Regions from separate parts of the Homo sapiens genome. Here region 1 is linked to region 2. The links come from fine-mapping of genetic effects on gene expression. Tissue or cell type: whole blood. Region 2 holds a variant in brackets; the other region holds the start of a gene. All regions are shown on one strand. Distances are from middle to middle.

Region 1 (9,328 bases), 23 kb before region 2:
TTTCTTTGATTCTTTTCTTCTCCAACTCCAGTTCACATCTGAAAAAAATCTCTATTCTGGGGACCCAGTTGCACAGAAAAACAAAAAAAACCCACCGTGTTCAAGCATCAAGGGACCTGCTCACTCTGTTCTTCCTTCCCCAGGGTTTCCCAGGAACCATTGCTCTGTAACCTGTCTCTCCTGTGCCCAGCCGACTGGAACTGCTTCCCAATCCCCTGTGGGTAACCCCAGGCTCTCCTGGGCCTGACTTTGGTGGTGTCTTGCCTGGCCCGCTCCTTGGGGGACCTCTGGCAGAGTGGGCTTCCATTTCTCTTTCTCCTTCCAGGATGTCCTGGCTCCATGCCTTCGGACTGAGCAGGAGCAGAGAGCAGGGTGGGTAGGATGCTTTCTGCAGACTTTTCTCCCTAAATTGTTTCTTTTTGGGAGCTGGGAGGAGCCTGGATATCTCACTGTAGCCTCTCTGTTCCCTCAGTCACAGGCAGGGTGCGGGAGAGCTCTTCCCAGGAATGGTCTCTGAAATGGCTCTTGGAGCTGAGATGGGGGTGGGGCAGATTCTAGAGGCTTAACAGCCCAGCTCTTGGTATTAGGGTTGGGCACTTTTCTCTTTGTCCCAGATCTGGGGGTAGCAGAGGTGGGAAGTTGAAGGCAGTGGGGGCTTCTCCATCAGCTCATCTGAGGCCCAGAAATGTTGCTTTGGGGAGAGCTTGCCCCCTCTCACCGTTTCTCTTCCTCAGCTCAATTCTTGAGTGTGGGGGCGGCTAAGTGGGTCTGCCTTCAGGCTCTACCCTGAGCCTCCAAGGAAGTCAGAAATCTACATTCAGCTTTGACTTCTGAGTATGTGGAGTGGGCTGGGGGGAGAGAGGGAGAGATCTGTCTCTCCTCAGCTTGAGGGAACAGCTCTCTTCTTGCCTCTGTGCACAGAAGGAGGGCTACCCCGTGCCTGGGCTCCTCTCTGTTTGGGAGGATGAAGGGCTCCTCTGACTCCTGTCTTCCCTTTGGGATAAGAGCAGAGGCCTGTCCCAGCAACACGGGTACAGGAGTGGAGGACAGCTGGCCAGCTCAGATGAGTGGCTCCTTCCCTTCAGGGCCTGGCTCTCCCTCTCCCTTGGTCTGGAGAGAGGGGGAGGCTACAGATGTCCCTTTCCCTTCTTGCCCTCCCATGCCCATTCTCAGCTGCTGGCCTTTGCTCACTTTCTCTCCATCCCCTGGCCTGGACAGGAGGACACTTCACTCACACATGAATCATCCTGGATTCATGGTAGGCAACCCAGCAGCCAGGGGTGGCCTTGGGGCGTGGCGGGGGCTGGGCCAGTCGTGGACTAGGTTCTACCCGGAACCCAGATGTGTTGATGCACCTGATGCCAAATGCTACACCAAGGAGGAGCTTGTGCTGTGGAAGGCCCTGGGCCCCCGGGGGGGTGAGTGAGGAAACTGCTGGCAGTGGAGAGGGCCTGAGGAATAACTGCACAGGCAAGAGCCTCTGGACTTTTTTAGCATCAGCTGTGGAGCCACCTCCTTCTCTCCCACTGGCTGCCTCCCTGAGTCACTGCCCACCCACCAGCAAATAAAAAAGAGTGTCATCTGCTGGCCAGTGGCCCCATTTGGCCCCAGTGTTTGCATCTTTGTGCTCCTGGGTGGAAGGTGAGAGTCCGGGTAGGGTGGTCTCACGACGACAGTTTTCTGCGCCTTCCTCCTTCGGGACTCCGATTCCTTCCCTGCCCTTTGTTCTTCCCCTCCCCCCATGATGGTTCTCGCTGGTGACAAGACCCAGCCCCTGCTCCAAGGACAGAGGCAGCTGCAAGCCCTCAGGAGCCCCCACATGGCCCCATCCATCTAGACAGGTCTCTGATCCGGCTGCAGGGAGGGGACCCTCGGCTGTTCAGCTGCGACTCCTCCCTCCCCGCCCGCCCACTCAGCTGTCAACACTCGCCTCCCCGCCCTGGCCTTCCCGGGGCCCTGCCTGACTGCTAAGTCCGAGGACACCGCGCCCGGAGACCCTCACTCAGACGCAAGCAGGCGATGAGCAGGCGGCGGGGCAGACACCCCGCCTGCCCTTGAGCATCCCTAGGCCTCCTTGCCTAAATAAGGGAGCCGCAGCTGGAGCGAGCCAGCTGGCCGGGGGGAGGGGCCTGCGGCTAGGCCAGGGCTTTCCGAGGGGCTGGGCCGTGGCCGCCGCCGCAGGGCCCCGAGCCCGCCGATTGGGCGTGCAAGGCTGGCCCCGGGCTGCCGGGGGAGGGCGGGCCGCTCGCACCCGGGGATCCCCTGGTTGGAACCTCGCGCTCAGGGACCTCTCTTTGATCCTGCAGCTAGGAGGCCGCAACTGCTGTCAGAATGTCCCTCTCTGTGCAGCTCCTATGCAGAGCCCCACAGAGGGCTCTCTCTCTCTCCGTGTGTGTGTGTGTATGTGTGTGTGTGTGTGTGTGTGTGTGTGTGTGTGTATGTGTGTGTGTGTGTGTGTGTGTGTGTGTGTGTGTGTGTTGGGGCAGGGGGCGTGCCCCTTCTAAGTTTAACCCTCCCTTATTTCAGAGCTCTGCTGCTCTGGGGCCTTCAGATTGTCTTGCTTTTCCTATTTCCAGGGTCTCCCTTGACTCCGGGCTCGTCTTCGAGGGTCCAGGCGTTGCCCCGGTCACCCACAGTAGGCACTGAGCGCGTGCTGTGTATACCAAGCCAGTGCTCGGCGTGGTGGGGAACCAGGGCATAAGGACCCGCCGTTTCCCTTCAAATCAGGTTTCTTAGTCGCTAATCTGGGGTGGGGGTGGAATCCCTTCCCCCATCCCGGCCGCCTACAAGCCGGCCATGGCACCTGTCCTCACGGTTTCCCCTGCCTAAGGGTCCCTTCCCCCTCTTCTGGGCGCGCGAGTCCCAGGGGCTCCTTGGCAGAGCGAGGGGCTGGCGTTGGGGGAGCACTCGGCGCGGCTCAGCCAATGGGAAGGTCGGGCGCGCGCGGTGGGGCGGGATGGGGGGGGGAGAGGGCGGTGCTGCGGGCGCGCGGCAGGCGGGAGGGGGCCGGGAGGCGGGGGCCGGAGCCGGAGGGGCGCGCGCCGCATTAACCCTTCCGCGGCCGGGCCGAGCCGCAGGCGCTGCCCGAGCCGCGGGCGCTGGAGCGGCTGTCGGCGCGGTGGCAGGCGGGAGCCAGGAGTCCGGGGCTCGGGCGGGCGGAGCGCAGCGCGGGGACGCGGCGGAGCGGGCCCCGCGGCTCGGCGGGGGCCGGCAGACAGGTGTGCCGGCGGCGGGCGGCTCGCGCTCAGGCGGCTCCAGGCCGGGCCCGGGGTCCGGAGCGGGGAGCCGGGAGCCGAGCGAGGACCCGGCGCCCGCAGTCCAGTCTTGGCCGCGCCCGTGCTCGGCTTGGCCGCGGGGTGCGGGGACCACGGCCCGGCCGGGCCACCCGAAGCCTAGTGCTGGGCCGGGCCGGGCCGGGGTGGGTGGGGGCCCGCCCGGCCCGCCCATGGGCTCAGGATGCCGGTGCGGAGGGGCCACGTCGCGCCGCAGAACACCTTCCTGGACACCATCATCCGCAAGTTTGAGGGCCAGAGTGAGTGGGGGAGGGGGCTGAGCGGGGAGGGGGCTCTGGGGGCGGGCCGAGCTCTTCCGAGTGTGGATGGGGGGGCGTGCCCGGGCCGTGTGCGTCGGCAAGTGCGAGTCAATGGGGCCTGGTGGGCCCCAGGCTTTGGCGAGGGGACGGCGGGGGCAAGGCTTGGTGCACCGGGGCCGTGGGCACCGGGCCAAAGGGTTTGGGGTTGGGGCTTGGGGCGGGAAACTCAGCTCAGGCTTTTGGGATCGGAGTGTGTGTGACACGCTGAGTGTGCAGGGAAGGGATGTGGGATGGAGTGTGCAGGTGTCCCCAACTCTGGGTGCGTGGACGTGGATGGGGCTGTGTGCAAGGGCATAAGAGTGTGTACGACCCAAACCCTGGGATCCCGAGAGTCCAGCGCGCACACTGGTCTTGCCAGATCTTGACTGTGTTGTGCCGGAGGGACTGAAAAGCCGTGGATGCAGGGTCAGCTCATAATCTCTTCTTGTGTGTGCCGTGTGTATATAACCCTGAGCCCATGTGTCACCCGTGAGTTAGACCCTGTATGGGCGGTGGGGAGGTGTCTTTGACAAGGCTGCGAGCTTGTGGGCTCTGTGGAGACAGGGTGTCCTGGGGCTAGAGCTGGGCTTTGAGGGTAAGCAGCTCCCTGTGGTACCCCCAAGTTGTGGGTTTTCTTGCCCTGGAGACTGTCACCTAATTCCCTTATGGGGACCGGGAGTACAGCACCCCTAATGCCTGCCTGGTAGGGAGGCTTCTAGAAGGGTCCCAGATTAGGCAAATGTCCTGGGGGTGGGCAGCATTCATGTGCCTGTCCCTAAGGCTGCATGAGCCACAGTGGGTGTGACTGCCAAGGGCCCTGGGAGTTGGGAGAGGATGACATTCCTTGTCCATGACCCTGTGAGCACAGGACAACGCGTGCTTGTAACGGTGGTTGGGGGAAGGAGGGGTCAGTCCGATGGTCAGTATTGTGTGAAGCGGAGGAACAAGATGATCCTGAGGGGGTGGAGACAATGACACTGGTTGAGGGCCTCCCTGAGAGGTGGGGGTGGGCCCAGGGGGAGGCTGTGGGCGGGCCTACGAGGAGGCTGGGATGGATGTGGGGGGGGGTGCTGGATTCTAGCCCTACCTTTGCCACTGACTGCCATGTGACCTTGAGTGACTCTTCCCTCTTTGGGTCTCAGGTTCCAGGTCTGTGGAGGAGGGGCAGGCTTTCTGTCCCATCCCTGTATTCCAGGATCTCAGTGAAGGGTGTGTGGTGGGGTGGGGCATGCCTTCGAAGAAACTTGCTCTTCTTTCCCCAGCCTGGGAGAGAGGACAAGGGGTGGTTTTTCTTCTATGAAGCTGGGGTGTGTGGCTGGGCCTCTGGACTGCCTTGGACTGTGGCAGAGCTGGAGGCCGAGTTAGGGGGTCTTTTCAGGTGACAGGAAACCCTGACTCCTGGAATTGATGGCTGCCTGGGAGGTCTGGGGGGCCTTGGGAACTGGCCAAAAGATGAACCAGTTCCAAAAGGCAACTTTCTGGGGGCCAGGGGAAGGGAGAATCGAGAAAGGTGGGAGGAGGCCAAGTCCTGATGGCCTGGGCCTATCTCAGGGTGCCCTGCTGCAGCCCAGCTTTGCACGTAGGATTGCCTAGGGCTGCAACCTGAGGGCTATGCTTGCTGGGGAGGGGAGGGGAAGGGAGGGGGAGAATTCCAACTGCTACTGAAAGCCCCAGCATTACAGGCCAAAGTGGCCGGAAACTTCTGTTTATAAAAAGCTCTTATCCCAGGAGCATCTTGCCTGGCACAAGTGAGGCTGCTGCCTGCCTGCTGCTCACTCGCCAGCCTGGCTCTCCGGGCAGGCCTGGAGTCAGGGAGCCAAGTCTGGCAGAAATGGAACCATGGGGGTGCTCATCCAGGATGAGGCCAAACTGAGGAAGGCCTCACATCCCTGGGCAGGTCCCCTTTCTTGGGTCTGTTTTCCTACAAGTGGGGCCAAAGTCTCAGGCCCCGCCCAGGCTCCAGGTGTGTCCAGGGTTTGGAGCTGCAGGTCCCTCTCTTTGCTTCCTATGACCTTGGGCTTCTGCCTGTGACCCTCAGCTTATTCTTCTGCCTCTGCCAGACCAAGGTTCAAAAGCTGGCTCTATCATTTACAAGCTGCAAGACTTGGGCATGGTGCCGAACTTCTCTGGAGCCTTGGTTTCTTCATCTATAAAAGGAGGATAATAACACCTACCTTATGGGGTTGTCAGAGGACCTAATGAGATGCAGCGTCCTTAGGTGTTCAACGTGTAACTTCCCTCATCCTCTCTGGCACACCCACCCCTCAGCTCCTGACTGCCCTTGGGGCGGGGGTGGTGTGCAGAAGTTCTAGGGGGTACTGACCTGGTAGGATCCTCAGATAATCGGGGAGTGATTTCCTAGGGAGCCTCAGGATAAGGAGTGGCTCAGGGAGCGCCCCCCAGTCTGGAGAGCAGGGAAATTAAAAGCAGAATCCAGAGAGCCGATGCAAAGGGAATCCTGGCCGCCATCTCTGGCCTTTCCCAGGCTCCCTTTCTAGGCCCAGTGTTTATCCCTCCGCCGCGGCTGCTGACACGCGTTGCTGACACCCGCCAGGCTGGCCTCAGCCTCGGGCATGGAGGAGGCGGCGGGCTGCTGGCGGCCTGCCCGGGGGAAGCCACGCAGCCCGCCCGCGGGCCAGGCGGAGGAGGGGGCGCGCCGCGCGGCCCGGCCGGCCAGGCACCTGTATCGGGGCACACGCACAGCTGCGTTCGCCCCCTGCTGGGACCCCAGTCCCAGCCATGCTTCCTGTGGCGGGGAGTCCCCGGGCGGCTGTGTGAGTGGAGAATGTGGGGAAGGGCTGGGAGTCCCGGAGGCTGGGGTCCCCGCTCACGCGCACTCTCCTCCCCGCCCCCCTAGGCCGTAAGTTCATCATCGCCAACGCTCGGGTGGAGAACTGCGCCGTCATCTACTGCAACGACGGCTTCTGCGAGCTGTGCGGCTACTCGCGGGCCGAGGTGATGCAGCGACCCTGCACCTGCGACTTCCTGCACGGGCCGCGCACGCAGCGCCGCGCTGCCGCGCAGATCGCGCAGGCACTGCTGGGCGCCGAGGAGCGCAAAGTGGAAATCGCCTTCTACCGGAAAGATGGTAGGAGCGGGCCGGGGCGGGGCCACGACCAGGGGCGGGGTCAAGAGGGGCGGGACCACGGCGAGGGGCAGGGTGCGTGGGGGTGTGGGGGTGTGGGGGCGGCTGGAGAACGCCCCGAGCCCGGGCAGGGTTCTGTGGGGGTGTGACGCGGGCGGGGGCCCTGCGGTGTGCCTGTGGGAGGCGCGGTTCCGGGGCCTGCGCCTCACTCTGCTGAGATGGTTTTCAGGAGGGCAAAGGAGTTGCTAGGCTGTGGGTCTGGCTCCTCTGGTCCTTTTTTTCCCTGGGCAGGTGTGGGCACGTAGAGCAAGTTGGACTAGAGTTAGACCGAGCTGGGATGGCAGGTACGTGCGTGGATGGAGGTTAAAGGTCAGATTGGCAGTTGTGCGCTGACATCCGGGCACAGGCCCCTATCTACCTTAGGGCAGTTGCTGCCAGGTGACAGGTCTGGGAGATGTCATGGAGGGACAGGAGGGCTGCAGGACTCTGGCTGTCTCTGCTGCCCCCCTCCTGCCCTGCGCTTCAGCAGCACCTGGGGGAGGTGCGTGCCTCTCCCCGCAACCTCAGTTCCCTTTGTCTCAGCTGTCGAGCGCCCCGCCCTGCCACCCTCTCCTGCGCCAGGTGTCTTTACTCAGCCACCGCCTCCCAGCACAGCTGCTCTGGGCTTCCGGAGAGCGGATAAACAGAGCCCGGGGTGGGGCTGCTCCCACACCGTGAATGCCCTGTTGGGGTGGGCTCTGGTCAGGGCGGGCAGAGCAGGAGGACTGGGGTCCTGTGGGCAGAATCCGGCTGCAGAGGCGGCTCTGGAACGCGTGCAAACCTTGCTGCTTCCTAGCGTGTGTCCCATAAGCATTGACTCAACCCTTGTGAGCCTGGCAGGCACTAGGCTCTTGGAGATGGGCAGGACAGATGAGGCTCCTGCCCTCAGGGAGCTTGTCTGCTGTAGACAGTGAGCACGCTCTGCTTTCTGTTTGGGACCAGGCCAGCCAGCCCCATGTGCCAGCCCTGTGTGCTCAGGGTTGGCTGGGGTGGCCCTGCAAAGCTTTGCATCCTCCAGGCTGTGCTTTTGCAGGCGTGCACAGTCTGTGGCATCACTGGACGGCACTAGAGGGGGCATGGTCCCTGCACCCTGTGGAAGAAGGTTCGCTCACAGCAAATCAGGGTTCTAACTGGCAGGAGGCAGGGGCTGTGAGACTAGACTCAAACCCTGAAGGCAGTGGATGGTTTCTAGGGGCTAGACACTGGGCCAAATGCTTTACTTCTCTTATCTCAGGCACTCTTCACAACCCAGGGAGGTAGACACTACTGTTGTCTTCATTTTGGGGGATGAAGAAACTGAAGTTCACACAGTCACACAGCTAGAAAATAGCAGTTGGGAACGGAGCCCACATCTGTCTGACCGGAGCCCTGTGCGCTCTGTTCTGTCTGTCATATATTGAAAATGACACCAGGTAGTTGCAGGTCTATCTGTATGCTGTACATTATCTCATGTGAAATTTTATTGTAAAAGTTTGCCAACCACAGGTGTACTGAAAAGAATATGAACCCATAAGTCCTGGGTTTGTGTCTAAGACAATGCTGGAAATTATACACTACTGGACAAGTTGGTTGACTTCCCTGGGCCTGTTTCTACTTCTGGGATAACGTGCCTTGCTTTGGACCTTCACAAGGGTGCTGAGCTTTCATAGAGAGTGCCTGCAACGGGCCGTGCTCTGTAAACACGGTGCCAGTCCCACTACGATGTAGCTGTGCTGGGGATTTGGCCTCTTGGCAGCAGCGGCTGAGGGCTCTTTCCTTTGGCTGTGGTATGTGTGGAGTGCTCTTAGGTGGAGCTGGCCCTCCCTCCCAGTCTAGGCTGGCCCCTTCTGGAGAGGATGGCTATGGGCCCCCTTCTGCAGAGGAGTTATTGTGGGATCACCTAATCCAACCCATTCGACTTGCAGGTGGAAGGACGGAGAAGCAGAGGTCTGATGACCAGTGAATCAGTGGAAGGAGTGGGATTAGAACCCAGATCCCCAGCCCAAGTTCAAACTTGTCCCCTCTCCAGGTTACAACTCCAAAAAATGGGGCTGTGACCCAGAAAACTCTGTGCCAGCAATCTCTGTCTGTCCCCTTCTTCACTCTCACCTAGTTTCCACGGGGCTCAGGTGTCTCCTGTTGGCCAACAGGCTGGCCTGGCACTCAGCCACCTAGGACCCCATGTATCCTGGCATTCTAGGCCTGGGGTGATGCAGACAGATTTCCTCAGCCTCCGCTTCTTCTGCCTTGAAACACTCAGTCCCTCCTGTGATCCCCGGGACCTGGCTTGGGCTGCGTGTGTGCGTGCCTGTGTGTGTACTCACACATGGGCCTGGTAGGGAGGCGGAGGTGAGGAATGCCTGCGCCACCCCTTGTTTCTGTCCAGGCCTTTCTCAGGGTCTCTGCCTGGGCCAGCCTCGGGTAGGGGGAGCTGGGCAGGAGGTGGAGCCTTCTGCTGGCAGGCGCCGCCGTGGACAGCTGTGCTGTGTTGGTGCCTCTAGCCTTGCTCTGCGCAGTGTCAGGGCCTGGAGCCAGACAGCCCCATTATTTAGTTGCTGGGACTGCTGGGAGGTGGGGAGGCTAGACTGGGGGAGTGTGGGCTGAAGGGAGAGACATGAGGTGCCTGGGGCTCACTGGCCCTGTGCCCCTTGAAG
Region 2 (8,690 bases):
GGCGCCGCGGGACCCGTTCCGCCCCAGCCCACGCTTCTTCTGCTGCCAGGCTTGCTGCATTCTGGGCCCTCGGCTTCTGACCTTTTCACTACGTCCTGGGTGCCTGGGAGATGGAAATCCCATTAAGCACTTATTTAATTCCATTAAGTGGCTTGTTGCGCTATTAAATGTCCATTCATCCCATTACATTCTTCCACTCCCAGAGCCCTGGTGGGCCCCTGGAGCTGGCTGTCCCGGGACGGCCTGGAGCAGGGATGCCCTGGGCAGGAGACGTGCCCAGCCTCCGAACACCACCTGGCCCCCTGCCTGCCAGCGTCCTGGAGCAGACCGTTTCCTCTTCCTCTTCCTGGTCTCAGGGCTGTCTCCTGGCTGCTTCCTTAGAGTGGGACAGGGGTCTGACCTCTCTTGTTTCTTGTGACTCCCCTGGTCTCTTGAGCTGACCCCATGGACTCCTGACTGTGCAGGGCCTGGTCTCCACTCTCGATCTATGGGTGGCCTGCCTGGCCTGGGGCCCTGGGCTGCTGGCCTGACCACGCTGCCTCTCCACCTAGGGGCCATGCACCCACTGCGCAGCGGCTTGCTCAACTCCACCTCGGACTCCGACCTCGTGCGCTACCGCACCATTAGCAAGATTCCCCAAATCACCCTCAACTTTGTGGACCTCAAGGGCGACCCCTTCTTGGCTTCGCCCACCAGTGACCGTGAGATCATAGCACCTAAGATAAAGGAGCGAACCCACAATGTCACTGAGAAGGTCACCCAGGTAGGCGCCCAGCGGCCGGGCTCTCCTCTCACCTTGGAGGAGCTTGGAGAGGGGGTGGGAGTGGGCTGTGATCCAGAGCCGGGTGGAGGGGGCTAGCCAGTGAGGGCCTCTTGGAGGGAGGCAGACCTGAGGGTTGGGGTTGGCAATCTATTCCAGAGCTGCGATGGGGGGAGAGGGGACAGTCTGAGAAGTCCTGGAGAGGGGACTGGAGAGGTCTGGTAAAGGGCTGGGAATGGCAGAGCGGAGGTCGGGTGGATGGGGTGCGTGCCTTCGGGGCACAGGGTGAGGACAGGGCAGTTGAGGCTGGGGACATGACAGGGCCAGTAGCAAGGGGGGAAGGCGGCCTGAGGGACATGAAAGGTCTGGCTGCAGGGTGTGTGAAGGAAGTACTAGGGGCCAAGCCAACTGGGAGGCTTCAAATGAGAAGGGGTCACAGAGGTCAAGGACAGGAGGGTCCTAATTCTTCCAGGCCAAGGTGATGTGCCAGGCAGAGGGTGGGCCTCAGTCCTGTGGGGATGGCCAGGATGGCCTCGAGGGGCCCAACTATGTCCCTAAAGCATGGGAGAAGCAAGTTTTCTTCTCATAGGGAGGTGGTGGGTACAAAGATATGGAAGGGTCAGGTCCCTGAATCCTGGGCCAGAGAAGACCCCTCAGCCTTGGGGGCATTAGCCAGCCTGGTCTTCTGTCCCCTCCTGGGTTTGGGGTCCTCCTGGCAGCAAGAGGACCTGCGACCCCTCCATGGCTTCATCCACCCGACACCTTATCCTAGCCTTTGGGGGCTGGGGGTGGGTGGGTCAGGAGTGCAGATCTCTGCAGTGAGTGAGAAGCCTGGGATAATGTGGAGGACTCCTGTCCCAAGCTGTTCCCTCCTGCCCCTTCCACAGCAGCTGCCTGGGTTGGCTCATGTAAGGGAGCTGCCCTGCTACCTCGGCGGGCTCCTGGCCCTGCTCCCACCGCCTGGCTTTCTGGGTCCCTGCCAGGTCTCCAGCCCACTGGCCTTGACTCCAGAGCATTCCCCCTCACCCCAGGCCCTTATCTGGCCACCTACCCCTCTCTTCCTCCTCCCTTGCTTCTCTCTTGGTTCCCACCTGAGCCCCTGGCATCTGCCCTGCTCCTGTGCCCGCTGCATGTGCCCGTGAGTTGCGGTGGGTCTGTGCATGTGCGCCTGTATGTGTCGGCAGGCGTGTGTGTTCCTGCCAGTCACTAGCAGTCTCTCCATCTCTGGGTGTCTCTGTCTGACTCTGGCTGGCTCAGCACTGGACCGGCTGGGCGGGGGTGTCAGGGAGACCATTAATCTGCGGTGACAGGCCCGGCTGCTGGCGGAGGGGGAGGGGCTCAGGCTGCGGGAGCGCCGCTGCAGGAGCCTGGGCGGGCTGCGGGGGAGGGGGCCGCTGGCTGGGCACCGGCGGGGCGGGGGAGCCTAGTGTGGCGGGGTGGGGGTGGGGACCTGGTAGAAGGAGGGGCCGGCTGGAGGAGCTGAGGTTCCGAGTGCGGCCGCTGCTGGGCTGGCGGGCGGGCAGAGCACGGCACCCTGGCAGCAGGGCCCACGCCACGGGGCCATGGGCAGCTCGAGCCAGGCAGGCTGCTGCCCACGCTTACTGCCAGGGTGACCCCAGCCCTGGGGCCCAGCCACAACCACCCTGGCTTCATGCCAGGGGCTGCTCTGGTTGCCAGTCGGCCAGCCTCGGGGGTGCAGCCTGGGCTGGGACTGCTGCTGGGGTGCAGGTGAGGCAGTGGCCGGGCCCTCAGGCCCCAGGGCAGGCAGGCTGCAGGGAGCCAAGTCCTCCATGGCGGCCCCAGCCGGGAAGGCGAGCAGGACAGGGGCTCTGCGGCCCAGGGCCCAGAAAGGCCGGGTGAGGCGGGCCGTGCGCATCTCCAGCCTCGTGGCCCAGGAGGTAGGTGACACCCGGTCCTTCCTCTTCTTTCTGGGGCCGGCACACTGAGGCAGGTGGCTGGCCCAAGGGCTCTGACTCCAGGCTGGGGAGAGGGCTGCTGGGAAGTAGGAAGCTTTGGGAGCCGTGGGGCCTGGCCCTGCTCACCCGCGCCTGGCTCCTGTTCTCATTCCCTCCCAGGCTGGGCTTACAGAGTTTCCGTTGCTGGGACTTCCCCGCTCCTGTGCCTGCCATGGCCCACAGTCCTGGAGCTCAAAATGCAAAGTGGGGAGATGACAGGAATGAGATGGGTGCCCAGAGAGATGGTGGGGAGGCGGAGTGGGACAAAGGAGCCCATGGGCAGGACCAGGAGAAGCCGGCAGGCGACAGCTGGGCCTGGCATGGAGGCGCCGGGGCTCCTTTGCTCTGTGTGCTGGGGTTGGACCCTGTGGGCAAAGGAGGCTTGTGCTGTTTTGGGGGGTCGAGGAGGCTGGAATGTGCGGAAGCCACTGTGTGGGTGGTGAGGGCGCGCTGGGCTGAGGCACCTGGCTCATCTCTTCATGGGCAGCCGAGGTGTGGTGGCTGGGCCATGCACTACTCTGTGACCTCCTGGGAGCCATCCAGCCGCTCTTCTGTCAGCCTGGGGCAGGCTTGGGCCGACAGTGGAGGAGGAGTGGGAGGTGGCTCAGGGCTAAGTCTGGGAATCCCATCCCTGCCCCCACCACCCCACATCTGCACATTCTGCCTTGGCTCATACACTCTTTCCAGCTGGGGGACAGGTACAGGTAGGTCTTCCCACCCACAGCTGAGGAGTCAGGGTTTGGCTTAAGCAAGCCAGCTTCAGTATTCTATAGGACAACAGGCTGGGGGGACAGACCTGGCCCAAGGCCATAGGTGAGCTGGTGGCTGCAGAGCTGGGACTGGCCCCTGTCAGGTGTGCCCCATGCACGTGTGAGTTTGTACCCTGGGGCAGTGTTGCTCATGCTGTGTGCAGACTCAGGGGTAGGGTCACTGCTGTTAGGGGTGGTCCTGACACCTCCGCCCAGAGGCTTGACCTCTCAGGCACAGAGAAGAGCCCTGTCCAGGGGCAGCTACCTTCTTCTGCCCCCTTATCAGCAGGGGCCTGGCCAGTGTTTTCTTTTTTTTTTTTCAGTCCCCACTTGATCACTGAAGGGCCACCCACCCATGGGCATTTGCTCTCTGCCTTAAGGAGCTGGGCACTTAGACAGCAGACAGAGCAGAAATGGAGCCTGTGAGCCTGTCCATGTGTTCCCTCCCTGCCCTAGGCCTCAGCTGCTCCCGCAGCCCATCTGGTACCGCTGGAGGCCCTGTGTCCACCCCAGGGTGGTCAAATCTTTGACTATGACCCGTCTTGACTTCTAGTTATTTCCTCTAAGGAGATGTTCTCCCAGCAGCGCCATCTGTGAAGGTGTCTTGGGCAAGCCCAGCTTGAGTATGAAGGGGAGTCTTTGGGACTCATCAACTATGGCCTCCCCAACCCAAAAGCCTGAGGGTGTGGGGGCCTGGGAGTCAGTGCTTCTGGGAGCAGGGCCAGCACCTCTGGAATTCATGGGGGCTGGGCAAGGCCTTGGGTTCAGCTGGCTGCCCAGGGATGGCAGGGAGAGCTTGGGGAGGGGGCTTTTGGGTTGAGCTGCATGCCTGAGAGAGGATTCTAGGGAGACCCAGAAGCTTCTGGGACAGTGTGGAGAAGCTGGCCGGAGCTCTTCTTAGTTTGCCTTGG[G/T]AGCAAGAGGGACGTGCCTGCTGTCACCGGGTCCGGATGGCCAGCCTGCCTCTGTCTGATGACTGTGGAGGAGGCAGAGTGTGAGTGTGAGCTGGTACAGGGGCTGTGTGTGTCACTGCTGAGCAGTCCCTGTGTGCACGTCCCTCTGTATAAGTTGGGTGCCATCTCCTCCCAGCTGGGCTATGTCTTCTTTGTCCCTTTGTAAGAGGGTGGGAGGATGAGGACTGTGGGCTGTCCCGGACCTGTGTGGAGAGGGGGCTGAGGGAGCGAGGTGTGCGAGTGGAGGGTGGGAGTGTCTTGGTCTTTCTCCATCCTGGTTGCCTGGTGTCCTCGGGCCTGTGGCATGAAGAGGGGCTGGTAAGAACTGCAGTGACTACCAGTCAGTGGATTGGGGCTATGGCTCCTGGGGCCACTGCCCAGGTTGGGAGCTGTTGTCCTTGGAACCCTTTCCGGTCTGAGACTATGGCGTGTGTGGTTGGGTGTGTGGGCCAGCGTCTCAGGGCAGTCACAGTGGCAGGTCTGCATCTGCATTGCCGGCGGGGAGCAGCACTGGGTGTTCCTGCCGAGTGGCCTGAATCCACGTCTGCCGGGAAATGTTGGAACTGTTTGGAGCCAGTCCTGTGCTGTGTGGCATTTTGGGAACCATGATGCCCAAACCTGGGGGTGGCCATTTGCTGTGGTCGCTTGGCTGAGGGGTGGGCATTCTGATGGAAGCTTTTTTTGGCCTCCTCCTCATTCTGCTTGGCCCCGGCAGAGATGTCATCGCTCCTGCCCCCGAGGTCCCATGGCCTGCCTCACCCACACCTCCGCCTTCCCCGGGTGCAGGTCCTGTCCCTGGGCGCCGACGTGCTGCCTGAGTACAAGCTGCAGGCACCGCGCATCCACCGCTGGACCATCCTGCATTACAGCCCCTTCAAGGCCGTGTGGGACTGGCTCATCCTGCTGCTGGTCATCTACACGGCTGTCTTCACACCCTACTCGGCTGCCTTCCTGCTGAAGGAGACGGAAGAAGGCCCGCCTGCTACCGAGTGTGGCTACGCCTGCCAGCCGCTGGCTGTGGTGGACCTCATCGTGGACATCATGTTCATTGTGGACATCCTCATCAACTTCCGCACCACCTACGTCAATGCCAACGAGGAGGTGGTCAGCCACCCCGGCCGCATCGCCGTCCACTACTTCAAGGGCTGGTTCCTCATCGACATGGTGGCCGCCATCCCCTTCGACCTGCTCATCTTCGGCTCTGGCTCTGAGGAGGTGGGGTCAGCAAGGAGGCAGGTGGTGTAGGGAGAGGAGAGGCCAGGAATGTGGTGGGAGGTAGTGGGGTGGAGGGGGTGGCGAGGAGGACAGAGAAAAAGAGAGAGAGAGAGAAAGAGAGAAAGACAGTGGGAGAGAGACATGGTGGCAAGGCAGCTGCAGAGGCAAGGTGGGTACCCCAGCAAACCTATGCTCCTTCTCTCCACACAAGCTCCTCGCAGGTTGCAGAGGGCCACACAGGACACCTTTTTTTCTAATTCGTCCATCCCAAGGGGCCATTATTTTGTAGCGTCACCAAAGTGCCCTAGAAGCTGGTGGGAGTGGGCAGGCACCCTAGGGTGATCACTGCACCTGTCAGTGCCCCTGTTTCCTCATCCACACTATGGGGGCTGCCTCTGTCCCAAAGCTAGCACTAAGATTAATGAGACACCTGTGCTGGGCCCAGTGTGGGCTTCACCTCTTAGGAGGAGGGTCTAGGAAGTCTTTGGGGATCTGACCTCTGATGCTCGCTCTGAGGGCCGCAGCACCTCCCCTCCTCCCTTGCCCCCCTTGCCCCATCAACGGAATGTGCCCCTTCCCTGTCCCCCAGCTGATCGGGCTGCTGAAGACTGCGCGGCTGCTGCGGCTGGTGCGCGTGGCGCGGAAGCTGGATCGCTACTCAGAGTACGGCGCGGCCGTGCTGTTCTTGCTCATGTGCACCTTTGCGCTCATCGCGCACTGGCTAGCCTGCATCTGGTACGCCATCGGCAACATGGAGCAGCCACACATGGACTCACGCATCGGCTGGCTGCACAACCTGGGCGACCAGATAGGCAAACCCTACAACAGCAGCGGCCTGGGCGGCCCCTCCATCAAGGACAAGTATGTGACGGCGCTCTACTTCACCTTCAGCAGCCTCACCAGTGTGGGCTTCGGCAACGTCTCTCCCAACACCAACTCAGAGAAGATCTTCTCCATCTGCGTCATGCTCATTGGCTGTGAGTGTGCCCAGGGGCGGGCGGCGGGGAGAGCCCACGGTGGAGGAACCCAAGTTGGAGGAAACTGAGGCTGCTAGCCGGGCCAGAGTGAGGCCCTGGAACTTAGAGACTCCAGGGGCCACCATCGTGACATGGTTTGGGGGCTGGGTCACCAGGGCGGGGACTACTGAAGGGTGGGGTGTGCTGGAGCGCAGATGTACAAGGGCGTCTCGTGGGCATGTCGACGCTGAGACTGAGACACTGACCTGGTGCGGGGCCTGAGCAGGGTCCCTGTGGGTGGGTGGGGTCCCTGCAGAGGCTGACGGCCCCACGTGCCCACGCCCCCAGCCCTCATGTATGCTAGCATCTTCGGCAACGTGTCGGCCATCATCCAGCGGCTGTACTCGGGCACAGCCCGCTACCACACACAGATGCTGCGGGTGCGGGAGTTCATCCGCTTCCACCAGATCCCCAATCCCCTGCGCCAGCGCCTCGAGGAGTACTTCCAGCACGCCTGGTCCTACACCAACGGCATCGACATGAACGCGGTGAGGCCACCAGAGCGTGGCCAGTGGGTGGCAGGCTGGGAAGAGTGGGGTGGCAGAGGGGAACCTCTTGGCACAGCAAACAAGTCTCAGGCGGTCACAGTCAGTAGTAAGGACCCTGGAGGCACGTTGCCCCTTTTTGCCCATGAGGAAATGGAAGCCCTTGGAACCCCTTCCCTGGAGAGCTCCCCTTTTGGGGTGGGAGGTATATGTCACATAGGCGATGGGGTTAAATCCTTGTGACAGCCCAGGGCGGGAATGGTCTCTATGCCTTACAAATAAGAACATGGAGGTCTAGAGCCCAAGGGTGCTCGGCCAGGCATGGTGAAGCTGGAGTGGGGTCCCAGGTCCTTCCCAAGACACTGGGCCCCCTGATGCTTCCGAGATCTCCCAGGCCTGGAGGTTGAGATTTCTCTGACATGGAGGGGTGGGATGGTGGAGTAGAGTGTGGGTTGGGGGGTCCCAAGGGAGGGTGTGCTGAGCTGCCCCCACCCTGCCCCCAGGTGCTGAAGGGCTTCCCTGAGTGCCTGCAGGCTGACATCTGCCTGCACCTGAACCGCTCACTGCTGCAGCACTGCAAACCCTTCCGAGGGGCCACCAAGGGCTGCCTTCGGGCCCTGGCCATGAAGTTCAAGACCACACATGCACCGCCAGGGGACACACTGGTGCATGCTGGGGACCTGCTCACCGCCCTGTACTTCATCTCCCGGGGCTCCATCGAGATCCTGCGGGGCGACGTCGTCGTGGCCATCCTGGGTATGGGGTGGGGGGCGGGCACTGGACTGGAAATGCCCTCTGCAGCCTCAAGAGGTGCGAGCCTTCTGAATATGCAGTCACTGGGGCTGTGGACCTGGGACTGCCTGCAGGGTCACTGGGCTCCTTTAATTCACCTAAACTCAGGCCCTCCAAGCGGGGCCATGGAGAGGAGCCCCACGTGGGGTGAGGCTGCTGAACTCTGGGGTTCCCACATTCTCCTTCCCTTCAGGATCCGCCACAAACAGACACTTTTTGCTTCCTTAAAGTAGGATCAAATCTAGATCCTCTAGCCTGGGCAGTAGAGGAAGAAATGCTAGCCTGGAAGCTCGGCATTTGGTTTCACTAAGGGCCATGTGGTTCCCTGCAGCCTCATGCCTGGCCCCTTGACACATCCAAAGCAAAGGGAGTCCTGCCCCCTCCCCCCACTTCCTTTCTACCCTGCCTGTGCACAGTGGGTGGGTTGGTGTGTCTGGACACTGAGGACTTCCTCCCCCTTTGCCTGTCCTTCCCTCGGCCCTGTGTGCCTCAGGGCAGATATAGCAAGCTCTTTCGACCATAGTTGATGGTAGGACATTTTAGACTTTGTTTCTCAGCTCTGTACAAACACAAATACACACCCCCACAAAACTAAAATCAAAGTTTCACTACATAACACTGGGCCTTACTGCATGTGGTTCATTCTAGCATTTCTGTTCTGTGCTGTGCTAAGCTATACTACTGTATGTTCTTTCAGTAAAAAAAAAAAAAAAAAAAAAAAAATGCTGGTTTTGATTCACTACTGTGTTCTGATCTTTGGTTTGAAGA

What was found. PIP is the estimated chance that this variant, and not a neighbour inherited with it, causes the effect.
Region 1: KCNH2 starts here. The variant in region 2 is fine-mapped to the expression of KCNH2 in whole blood (INTERVAL, PIP 0.95).

What each region holds. Positions count from the first base shown.
Region 1 is chr7:150,972,042-150,981,369 of GRCh38, reverse strand. It overlaps KCNH2 (potassium voltage-gated channel subfamily H member 2), which reads left to right and starts at 3,049. Exons shown (of 15, transcript NM_000238.4): 1 at 3,049-3,532; 2 at 6,429-6,659. The coding sequence starts at 3,457. LOC124901776 (a long non-coding RNA gene) reads right to left here and starts at 6,052. Exons shown (of 3, transcript XR_007060592.1): 1 at 5,895-6,052; 2 at 4,659-4,834; 3 at 4,015-4,525. RefSeq lists silencers at 2,032-2,381, 6,155-6,304, 6,695-6,744, 6,845-6,914 and enhancers at 4,751-5,677, 8,816-9,328.
Region 2 is chr7:150,949,364-150,958,053 of GRCh38, reverse strand. KCNH2 (potassium voltage-gated channel subfamily H member 2) reads left to right here. Exons shown (of 15, transcript NM_000238.4): 5 at 552-763; 6 at 5,201-5,629; 7 at 6,219-6,606; 8 at 6,934-7,133; 9 at 7,634-7,886. Among named protein-coding and RNA genes, the nearest start is that of KCNH2, 25 kb to the left of the region's middle. RefSeq lists enhancers at 1-311, 3,116-3,714, 8,429-8,690. The variant G/T (reference allele first, on the strand shown) is at 4,376.